Regions from separate parts of the Homo sapiens genome. Here region 2 is linked to region 1. The links come from fine-mapping of genetic effects on gene expression. A gene starts in region 1. The other region holds a variant in brackets. All regions are shown on one strand. Distances are between the middles of the regions.

Region 1 (5,389 bases):
ATTCCAGCACAGCCACGTGCTGAAAGAAGATTTATGGACAAGTGGGGTACAGAAAACGGAAGCGAGGTACAGAAACAGCTGGATTGGTAAAAGCTCAGCATTTGCTTTATTTGAACATGGTTCGAACAGTTGGCTACATTTGATTCATCAAAACTTAGTAATTGGCACAAGTGTAGACTATGGCCTGTTTACACCTCCACTTGTCATAGTTCATGATGTACAGAGAAACCTTTAGGCCGAACTTAAAATATGTAAGGAGGCAGCTTTAGGCTAAACTTGATTTAACAAACCTAAATGGAATTGTAAACAGACTGTAACCTGCTCTTGTGCCAATCACCAAGTTTTGGCCAATCAAGCGTGGCCAACTGTTTGAACCGTGTTCAAATAAGACAAACGCCAAGTTGTGACTAATCCAGCTGTTTCTGTGCCTCGCTTCCATTTCTGTACGTCACTTTCCCTTTTCTGTCCATAAATCTTCTTTCACCACGTGGCTGTGCTGGAGTCTCTGAGTCTACTCTGGCTCAGGAGGCTGCCTGATTCGCGAATCATTCTTTGCTCAATTAAACTCTTTCAAATTTAATTGGCTAGAGTTTTTTTTTTTAGCAGCTTTTAAAATATTTTACTAGATTGTATTTATGGTTAACAGTATCTTGCACTACAATTTATATTTAGATAATCATTCATTTTAAAATTATTTATTGAGCACCTACTATGTGTTAGGTATTAGGTACAGAGCAATGAATACAGCAAGCACAGTTCCTCACCTCGTGGACCTGACACTGTAGTGTGAGAGATAATAAGCAAATGATATAAGGCCATGCAGTAGTTAAATGCTATGAAGAAACATAAAATCTGGTACAGGGACAGAGAGTAGGGAGGGAGCTCTTGTTATAAAGGGTGGCCAGGAAAGACCAAGTTGTGTAGCAGAGGCCTGAAGGAAGCCAGGGACCAAGCCATATGAATTTTCTCAGATAGGTGTATTCTAGTTATAGAGAACAGCAACTGGAACGGTCCTGAGAAGGGAACATTCCTGGAACATTCAAGAACTAGCCAAGAGATCAGCAAGTCTATAGTAAAAAGAAACATAGTAGATAGTCATCTAGTGTTTTCTTCTCTTCCTTCCTATTATCTCTCATACCATGTCATGTTACTTTTCTAAAGGATCTCAATGGGGAAGAGAACATCATTGTCTTTAAGATTCAATTTTTTGTGTATTGAAAGTCTTCATGGTCATTCTTTTGAGATCATGACCTACTACAACGTCCCCAGGCCTGCATCCTCCACAGGTGAGGTTTCTTTGCTTGGCTTCAGCAGCCTTTCAGACAGCTGCTCATGCATTATGTATTTATAGAGGACTGACCACGTCCAGGCACGATTTGCTGAGCTAGGTTTACAGAACCAGGCTGCTTGTATTAGAATTGAAATGCTTAGCATTTTCAGGAGTCACTTTTTTCCCCCTGTAGTGCATAAATACGGTATATCTTTATACTACCAGTTTCCCATTTAAAAAGTATTATTATTGTTATTAAGTATTAACCATTTGTCTAGTATCATGGAGTAGAAAAGAGGCACAAAAGAAGTTTGTATTGTGCCTGTGGGAGTTTCACCTCAAAGCGGGAATCCCAACTTGAGCCAAAGTTAAGTTTGCACCGACATTCAGTCACCATCTGGGGGATTTGGGAGGGAAAACGAGTGTCTTCTGTAGTGGAAAAGGCATGTTAGTATGGAGCTTTGGTCCAAAGTCAACAGATCAGTGTTAAAGAGGGAGAAGTTTAATACTCAGCCCTTGTGGACTCATGTCCTTGGGAGAAAGACTTCAAAAAACATTCCGTAAAAACCAGAGAAGCTGTTTCCTGGATATCTGCTAAGGCAGCTAGAGCTTAGGTCAGCACAGCTTTGCAGCCTGAGTGTCAGACAGCAGCTCTGGGGCTACTGCCTGAACAGGAAAGTGGGCAAACCTCATCCTGAATTGAGAAGATGTGGGAGTAGACCTCATCCCTTGATGGTCTTAGTTTCCTGGCAATGGCAGGAGCAGCTGCGATTTTGGCAGGCTTGGCCACCAGTGGTGGCATTTATACAGACAGGAGGCAGGGAAATACCGGGTAGAAGAGGGAGGTTCCCTCCCAAAGGCCCCACCCTCAAGCCTGGAAACCCATGACTTTAAATGGGAATAGGCATTCTTGTTTTTGCACCCAAATGTTGCCTTTTGGCCCACCATGTCCACCCCCCATCTTGTACCAATATAAACCCCAAATTGCAGGCTCCATGAGCAGAAAAGCAGACGAATAGAAGAGCAGAGGAACAGAAGAATAGCAGTGTGGCCGAGCAGCGTGGTAGAGAAAGAGGGAAGAGAAGCAGCATCTGAATGTTGAGAGGAGTTTGGCTGGGGACAGTCGGAGAGGAGATTGGCCGCAGGACGACCCAACTCCAGGGGAGGAACATCTTCCTACTCCATTCGCTTCCCCACTCCCCAGCCATTCCACTGAGAGCCACCTCCATCTGGCAATAAAATCTCTTGCATTCACTATCCTTCAATTTGCCTGTGTGACCTGATTCTTCCTGGATGCTGGACAAGAACCCAGCATCCAGGTACCAAGAGGGCACTGGGCTGGATAACACTTGAGCTGTCTGTGGACGGCAGAGCTAAAAGAGCACTGTAACATGCCCACTGGGGCTTTGGGAGTTGCAGGCACCCACCCTGGATGCTACTACCATGGGGCTGGAGCCCAAAAGTGTTTGCCCCGCCTCCTGCACCTGCCCGTCTGCATGCTCCCCCTCCAGTAAGGGGTTTGAGTGCACAGAGGCTGAACAGATGAGCCACACCCCTGTCACACATCCTGTGAAGGGGGTTAGGAAACTCTCCCATTTCATCTTGACCATCTTTGAGGGACTATTGATGCTTTTGGTATCAGCAGCCACAGAATTCATCAGACACAGCACAAAAGAGCAGGAGAAGAGATAATGGCAGATGCCAGAAGGTAAGAAGGAATTCGCCTGTGAGCAAGTGTGAGCTGTGCCCTGGGGGTATCTTAAGTGCGGGAGAAATTCGAGAGAGTTGGAACTTCTAGAAGTGGGAAGTGAAGGACAGAGCCAGAGAATGATACTGTTGTGGTCATTGTGATATTATTTTTATCCCCAAGATGTGGTATCTGGAGTGAGGTACAGAATATAAAGCCTAACCCTAGGCGGGCGCGCGTGGCTCACGCCTGTAATCCCAGCACTTTGGGAGGCTGAGGTGGGCGGATCACGAGGTCAGGAGATGGAGACCATCCTGGCTAACACGGTGAAACCCCGTCTCTACTGAAAATACAAAAAATGCCCCGGGCGTGGTGGCGGGCGCCTGTAGTCCCAGCTACTCCGGAGGCTGAGGCAGGAGAATGGCGTGAACCCCGGAGGCGGAGCTTGCAGTGAGCCGAGACCGAGCCACTGCACTCCAGCCTGGGTGACAGAGCAAGACTCTGTCTCAAAAAAAAAAAAAGAAAAAAGCCTAATCCTACATATACGACTAAGGAGATAGAGTATCTTGAATTTAGACAAGGCGATTAAGTCTCTATCATGGACTGAATGTTTGTGTCCCCTCAAAATCCATATGTTGAAGCCCTACACTCAATGTTATGCTATGAGGAGGTAGGCCTTTTGAGGGGTAAATTAGATTGAGCTGAGGGCATGAGCATGGAGCTTCCATGGTGGGATTACTTGCCCTTATAAGAAGAGCAAGAGACGCCGGAGCTTCCTCTCTCCACCTAGAAGGTGACCATTTGCAAGCCAGGAAGAGAGCCCTCACTAAAACCCAAATCTACTGGCACCTTCATCTTAGACTTCCCCACCTCCAGAACTTTGAGAAAATAAATTTCTGTTGTTTAAGCCACTCAGCCTAACCAGTACATGACCAATGATCTTCCTCTAGTTTAGCAGCAAATATTAAATATTTTCATTCACCTATTCATTTATTTCATTCAACCAGTATTTCTGAAACACCTATCCTGTGCTGTGAAGTACTGATAATGGATTAGGTACTGAGCTAGGAGATGGAGATTTTTGTTTTCATGGGCTCCCATTTTGTAGAGCAGAGATGCATGAGCCAGCACCCCTGAAATATTTGTTATTTCCTGAAGCTCCATGCTGTCTTCCAACTCCATGTCTTTGCACAGTTGTTCCCATTGGTACACTTTTCTTAACCTGCCCCACCCAACAGTCTATCTTGAAAGTTCCTGTTTATCTTTCAAGACTCGGCTCAGGTATTACTTCCTTCCCTAATTCTTCCTAGACATGCCTTTTCTGCGTTTATATTGAAAAACTAAGCCTTAGAAAATTTAAACAACTTACCCAAGGTTATATAACCATTAAGTTTAAGAGCAGGAATGCAATCCCAGGTAAGTATGGCTTTACCTTGGCTCCTGTGTAGACTAACATAACACGGAGTTATATAATCGAGAGAACACACTGGGCTGGGAGCCAAATGCCAGATCTATTTCATGTCATCTATGTGACATTGGGTAAGTCATGTAAAATTCTCAAGCCTCAGTTTTTTTAAATCTAAAAAACAGGGATGAGAAAGTTATCTCACAGGATAGTTGTGAGAATTAAAATATGACATTTAATTAGAAATCATGTAGCAAAGTGCTTAGCTCAATGAATATTTATTAGGAAAAGATATTTTAGTCTTCTTAGGCCTGATCATATAGGCCCATGAAGCTCTTGTGTTTGTGTAAAACACTTTCTTTCTCTTGTGTGCGTGCTTCAAATGCTCACTCGTTAGTCAACAGCAGCTCCTGGGTAATTGTCTTGAGGATCTGAGGTTAGATCAGTAGCTTTCTAGCTAAAAATGTCTCCCGGAGGAGCAGAAGCATATTTCCATATCGGCTTCTAAGTCTCCTATGTTTTTGATTACAGCTGTGTGAAATGAATGGAAAAAGACTGAAATGATTAAGTAACTCTGCTGCTCTCCATTGGTGATGGGGAGTGAATTTGACAGGAGACGAGCAGACAAAGTCCTAGGATTCCAAAGAATTTTAATGGGCAACTGAATGTTAATAATTGTCAGAGCAAGACTCAGATGATCACATCAAATCCTCACAGGCATCTTATGTTATTTCCTCTACATCTTACACAAGTGGGAGACAACTAATAACATGGCCCGTGTACCATGATGCAGCCCAGAACTATGAATTTGACGAGGACATGGTTGATGATATTCCTTCTCTAAATACGATCCTCAGACCAGAAGCATCAGTGTCACTTGGGAAGTTGTTAGAAATACATTTTAAGGGCCCCACTCCAGACCTACTGCACCACAGGCTATGTTTCTAAAAGATCCCCAGGTGATTCTCAGCTTTATTAAAGTCAAAAAAGTACTGAATTAACCATTGATGACAAAGCATTTGTGCTC
Region 2 (5,389 bases), 100 kb after region 1:
ATGACCTTTTATTTTCTCTTATTTAGACTCATTCTTGGTGATCTCATCTAGGTTAATGGTTTAAATACCACATATACACTGATTTTAATGTAGACTTCTCTAACTCCCAGGCATCTCAAACTTAGCATGTCCAAAATGGAATCTCTGATTCTGTCCCACCCTCCAACTCCAAAATGCTGTTCCTGTAGCTTTCCTGTTTCTATACATGGTAGATTTCTCCTTCCAGTTAATTTGCTACTCAGGGGAAAAACCTTGGTGTCACCATTGACTCATCCCTTCCTTCACATCCATATCCAATCTCAAATCATGTTGGTTCAACCTGCAGAACACATTCAGAATCTGACCACTTTTCATCACCTTCACAACTATCACTGTAATCAGAATTACAACCATTTCTTGCCTAGATTATTGTAATAGCCTCTTAACTTGTCTTCCTAATTCTTTGTCTCCCCAGAGTCTATTAATTCAGCAAGCAGAGTGACCCTCTGAAAACACTGAGATCACTGATTGATGAGATCACATCTCTTCTCTGCTCAAAATACTCCCACTCCAATAGCTGCTAATCTGAATCAAAATTTGATGAGGTTTCACCTTATTAGTGAGACTTTTCTTGACCACCCTACATAAAACAGTAGTCTCCTGTCCCGTTAGTACTTCCTATCTCCCTTACTCTGCTTTTTTTTATCCATAGTACTTACTAACAATTGATATACATTTCCTTTAGTTATTTATTGCACATCTCCTTCCATCAGAATGTAAATTCCATGAGGGCAGGGACTTTGTTTTGTTCACTGCTGAGATTAAAAGTTCCTGGCACCTAACAGTCTCTTAATATTGAATGAATGAATGAATCACAGAGATTACAAAGTTCATATTGTCAGAATGAAACTGGGTTTTTAATTTGTCTTTGAGTCTATTCCTTTAAATAAATTTTAACCTCCCAGAGGCAATATTTCATTAACTAAAAAAAATTTTATTAAAAACCCTGAAACTTAAATTCATTTATCAGGATTCATGGCTTTAAGAATAATGAATACTTACAGTGGATAACCATTTATGAGTTCCATGACCACTGCATGACGATTGTAATCAATTGGCTTTGGAACTGGAAATTTCCTCTCATACAATGCCTAAAATGTTGCAAAACAGGTGTAAGCTAATGAACAGGTCATTACTCTTTAAAGAACAATAAAAGTAAATATACCTTTCTACAACCAGAAAAAAAACACACAAACCTTTATAAAATTGTAGTTAACACATGGTTATTTATGCATAGCTTATTTATTCACTGCGTAGAATTAGCCACACATAAAAAGCAAATTTTAAACAAAAGTTTGAATTCACTTTTCCACAAAAAATGAACATTTACAAAATGTTATGCACTGTGCTGGGGTTACAAAAATGAATGTTAAAAAGTTTCTAAACACTCTAAAATTAGTGTCAAAAAGCCCCCAAGAAGCTTACAGTCTCTTAGGGTATATCCTTTCCTATTTTGTAAGTCTCTGACATTTGTTGAAATGTGCTCAAAATATTTAAATTGGAAACAAATTTAGGAAATACTCATCTTCGGACATATTAGGAAATGAGGCATTCTAAGAGATCAGACATTTTGGTTTATAGGGCACTGAACTTTTTCTCCAGGCCACAATATGCAATATAAATCTATTATGTGAAAAATATACACTGTTGTAGTCTGATTCAAGTGTTAAGACTCTCCATACATCTTTTCCCCTAAGCTTACTGTCTTCAATCTTACTGTTTACAAAGCCCTGTTATTACTTTCTTTAAAATACCTTAGATTTATGCCCTTTGACATTTAGAATGCTAGTATTAGGAATGGCAAAAACTGCAATTACTTTTGCACCAACATATACTTGTAAGGAGGCATATACCTCATTACTCCACAAGTGTTCTAGCTCTTGCCATCATACCTAACCTATTCTATGTACCAATACCAGACTAACCTGCTGATGTTAATATTCCATTTAAAAATATATACATTGGGATGGGCATGGAGTCTCACGTCTGTAACCCCAGCAATTTGGGAGGCCGAGGCGGGTGGATCAGTTGAGGTCAGGAGTTCGACACCAGCCTGCCAGCATGGTGAAACCCCATCTCTACTAAAAATACAAAAAAATTAGCCAGGCGTGGTGGCACATGCCTGTAGTCCCAGCTACCTGGGAGGCTGAGGCAGGAGAATCGCGTGAACCCGGGAGGCAGAGGTTGCAGTGAGTTGATATCGTGCCACTGCATTCTAGCCTGGGTGATAGAGCAAGACTACACCTCAAAAAAAGTTTTTTTTTACATTGGCTGTAAATTTTCTTTTCAGTTTGTAAATATAAACTTTTCCTGGTTTTCAAAACTCTTTAATCCACCTGTACAGTCCTAGTTCTCCCAATATTCTCTCCAATACACACCAAGAAACGCAGTCAGGACAGTCACCTCAGTGTCACCTAAACACATAGGACTCACATAGATTCATGTCATTGCCCATACCACTTCTCTGCCAAAATGCACTGTCTTAGGGTCAAATAATATCCAAGCTTCATGGCTCCACTCAGCTCCACTCACTACCTGAAACCTCCTCCATCAACTATTCTATCACTTACTGAAGTTTCTCTAAATTCAGTATATAATTAAAAAAAAAATTGTTCTTAGACTTGCAGTGGTGGCTCACGCTTATAACCCCGGTACTTTGGGAGGCCGAGGTGGGTGAATCTCTTGAGGCCAGG[G/A]GTTTGAGAGCAGCCTGGGCAACACAGCAAGGTCCTGTCTCTACAAAGCAGGCATGGTAGCACATGCCTGTGATCCTAGATACTTGGGAGGCTGAGGTGGGAGGATGGCTTGAGCCCAGGAGGTAGGGGCTGCAGTGAGCCGTGATCGTGCCACTGCACTCCAGCCTGGGTGACAGAGTGAGACCTTGTCTTGAAAATAAATAAATAAATAAATAAATAAATAAAAGGTTCTGTTTCATGTGTTATCTTCTCAACTTTAAGACACAGATCGTACTGGTTATTTCTTTGGCATCCACTCCTTCACCCTACACTACCCCAGCAATTAATTTCAAAAGGTTGTCTATTGCTTACCTTCTGTGAACAAGAACCAAACCACTTCCCACTTCCCAGATATTTTTCTTTGCTTTGTTTTTAAATACTTTTTTTCAGTGTAGACCATTTTGAGCATACCTAGACAGATCAATAGCACGTGATAAACTTAAAGATTGTGAATATTTGTCTAGAACTTGTGCTATCGCCTAGACCTCATGCTATAGCCCAATCTTTATCTTCTTGTTCCTCTCTTATGAATAATCAATACATTAAGGAGTGCATTTATGTGCAACCAGATTCCATTCCTATACCTTCAATATAAATATCCTGAAAAACACCTACTACCCTTTTGGGAAAATGTGTAAATGATCCCTACCAAGCTGCTCATTTACTGACTGAATATTACAAGATACAAACTATTAGTATAAGAAGTACATTGACATGTATGGTATCAGTATTACTAATTTATGCTGCCTTAAGAAATCTCCCATGATTAGTGAAAATTTAAGTATATAACCCACTCAAAGAACAAGCTGAATCCTCAAGAAACAGGTGTTCACACACTGTAGCAATCTTTAATTCACATTGTTTTGAAAAATGAAGATAAACTATGACAAATCCTACTGGCAGGATTATAAAAACACAATATTATCTTTTGTTTAACTTAGTTATTGTTGGATATATTTAATTTGGATATTATTATATTTAACAATCTATGCTGAACTTAATTTTGAAGGCAAAGTTAAAAATAAAGGATTTTTTTTTTTAATGTCAGGGGACAGTATAAATGTAGTCCGCCAGTGCCACAAAATATGCAGTCAAGTTCCAATATTTGGGGAAACTGCAGGGGTCAGCACACCTGAAGTGCAATGAATAGGCCTAACCCTGAGAAAACCGTCTTTGAGATTTTGACATTTCATCTGCCAGGTTAAGCATTTTTTTCTATTTGTATAAATGTATGAGGTACATGTAACATTTTGTTAAGTATATATGAGAAGTCATCAAGTCAGGGTATTTAGTGTGTTCATCTCCTGAGTACAATACATTTTGTTTACTATAGTCACCCTACTCTGCTATCAAACATTGAATGTATTCCTTCTAATTGTATGTTTGTATCCTTTAACCCACTTCTCTTCATCCTTACCTCTTAAAAACTAAAGATTTTTACCATTTTTGTTTTTTGAGACAGAGTCTTGCTCTGTTGCCCAGGCTTGAGTGCAGTGGCACAATCTTCACTCACTGCAACCTCTGCTTCCTGGGTTCAAGTGATTTTCCTGCTTCAGTCTCCCAAGTAGCTGGGATTACAGGTGGCCACCACCATCCCCGGCTAATTCTTGTATTTTTAGTAGGGATGGGGTTTCACCTTGTTGGTCAGGCTGGGCTCCTTACCTCAAGTAATCCGCCCACCTCGGCTTCCCAAAGTGCTGGTATTATAGGCATGAACCACTGCACCCAGCCAATTTTTACCATTTTTAATATACATATAAATCTATAAATGTTTGTTCCTTTATGTGAAACAAAAAACTAGCCAACTTATCTGAGACACTAAGGTTTCTACAGATGATAATTACCTGGTGTTTTCAATTAGAAACAGACATATGTATAGTTACATATATTGAATAGATATATATACATCCACACATACATATTTGTGAGGTAACAGCATCATTAATTACTTTTGGCTCTTTCATCTTGTCAGCATTACAGAATGTGTTGCCCTTATGCATTAGTAACAATTTAAAATACCTTAACGTAGAAGGAAATCACTTAAAAGAGCCCAAATAATCAACAGAGTTATTTAAGATTGAGTCTGTCTGTAGGAATTGAGTCTAAGGTTAGAGAGATGTGGGGACAACAGAATCACACTTGTCATTAAGGCCTTTGAGACACATGTATTATTTGGCTAAAAAATGCATGACTACAAAATAAAATAAATACCTTCATATAGGCAAATTCCTTCATGGCAGAGAGACGAGATAAATATAGCCATGACACATTGTGCCTATGTTTATGATAATCGCGTTTGTTTTTCAAATTTCGAAACGAGGTTCTTCCTAGTCTGTGAAGCTTTAATGCAAATTGTTGTCCTTCTTCATTTGCAACAATGTAAATATCTAGAGACAAAATTTCAAAAACAACCATTATTACACGTTTATTCCAATCAGTTAAAACAATTCTAACTTTCTCTAATTTTATTTGTATCAAAAATGTCATTTTTCCTAATAAAGATTGAGTATCCCTCCTTATCCAAAACCTTCGGACCAGAAGTGTTTTGAATTTTGGATTCTGGTATATTTGCACATAAATAATGATATATCTTGGGAGTTATTAGAAGAAAATTAATT

The links. PIP is the estimated chance that this variant, and not a neighbour inherited with it, causes the effect. A credible set is the group of variants that fine-mapping cannot tell apart.
Region 2: its variant is the best candidate, but not a certain one, in a credible set for the expression of LIX1-AS1 in whole blood (INTERVAL, PIP 0.87).

What each region holds. Positions count from the first base shown.
Region 1 is chr5:97,070,861-97,076,249 of GRCh38, forward strand. LIX1-AS1 (LIX1 and RIOK2 antisense RNA 1) reads left to right here and starts at 2,865. Exons shown (of 8, transcript NR_187470.1): 1 at 2,865-2,978.
Region 2 is chr5:97,172,134-97,177,522 of GRCh38, forward strand. It overlaps RIOK2 (RIO kinase 2), which reads right to left. Exons shown (of 10, transcript NM_018343.3): 4 at 4,983-5,158; 5 at 1,042-1,130. It also overlaps the pseudogene RNU1-73P. Among named protein-coding and RNA genes, the nearest start is that of RIOK2, 8.4 kb to the right of the region's middle. The variant G/A (reference allele first, on the strand shown) is at 2,733.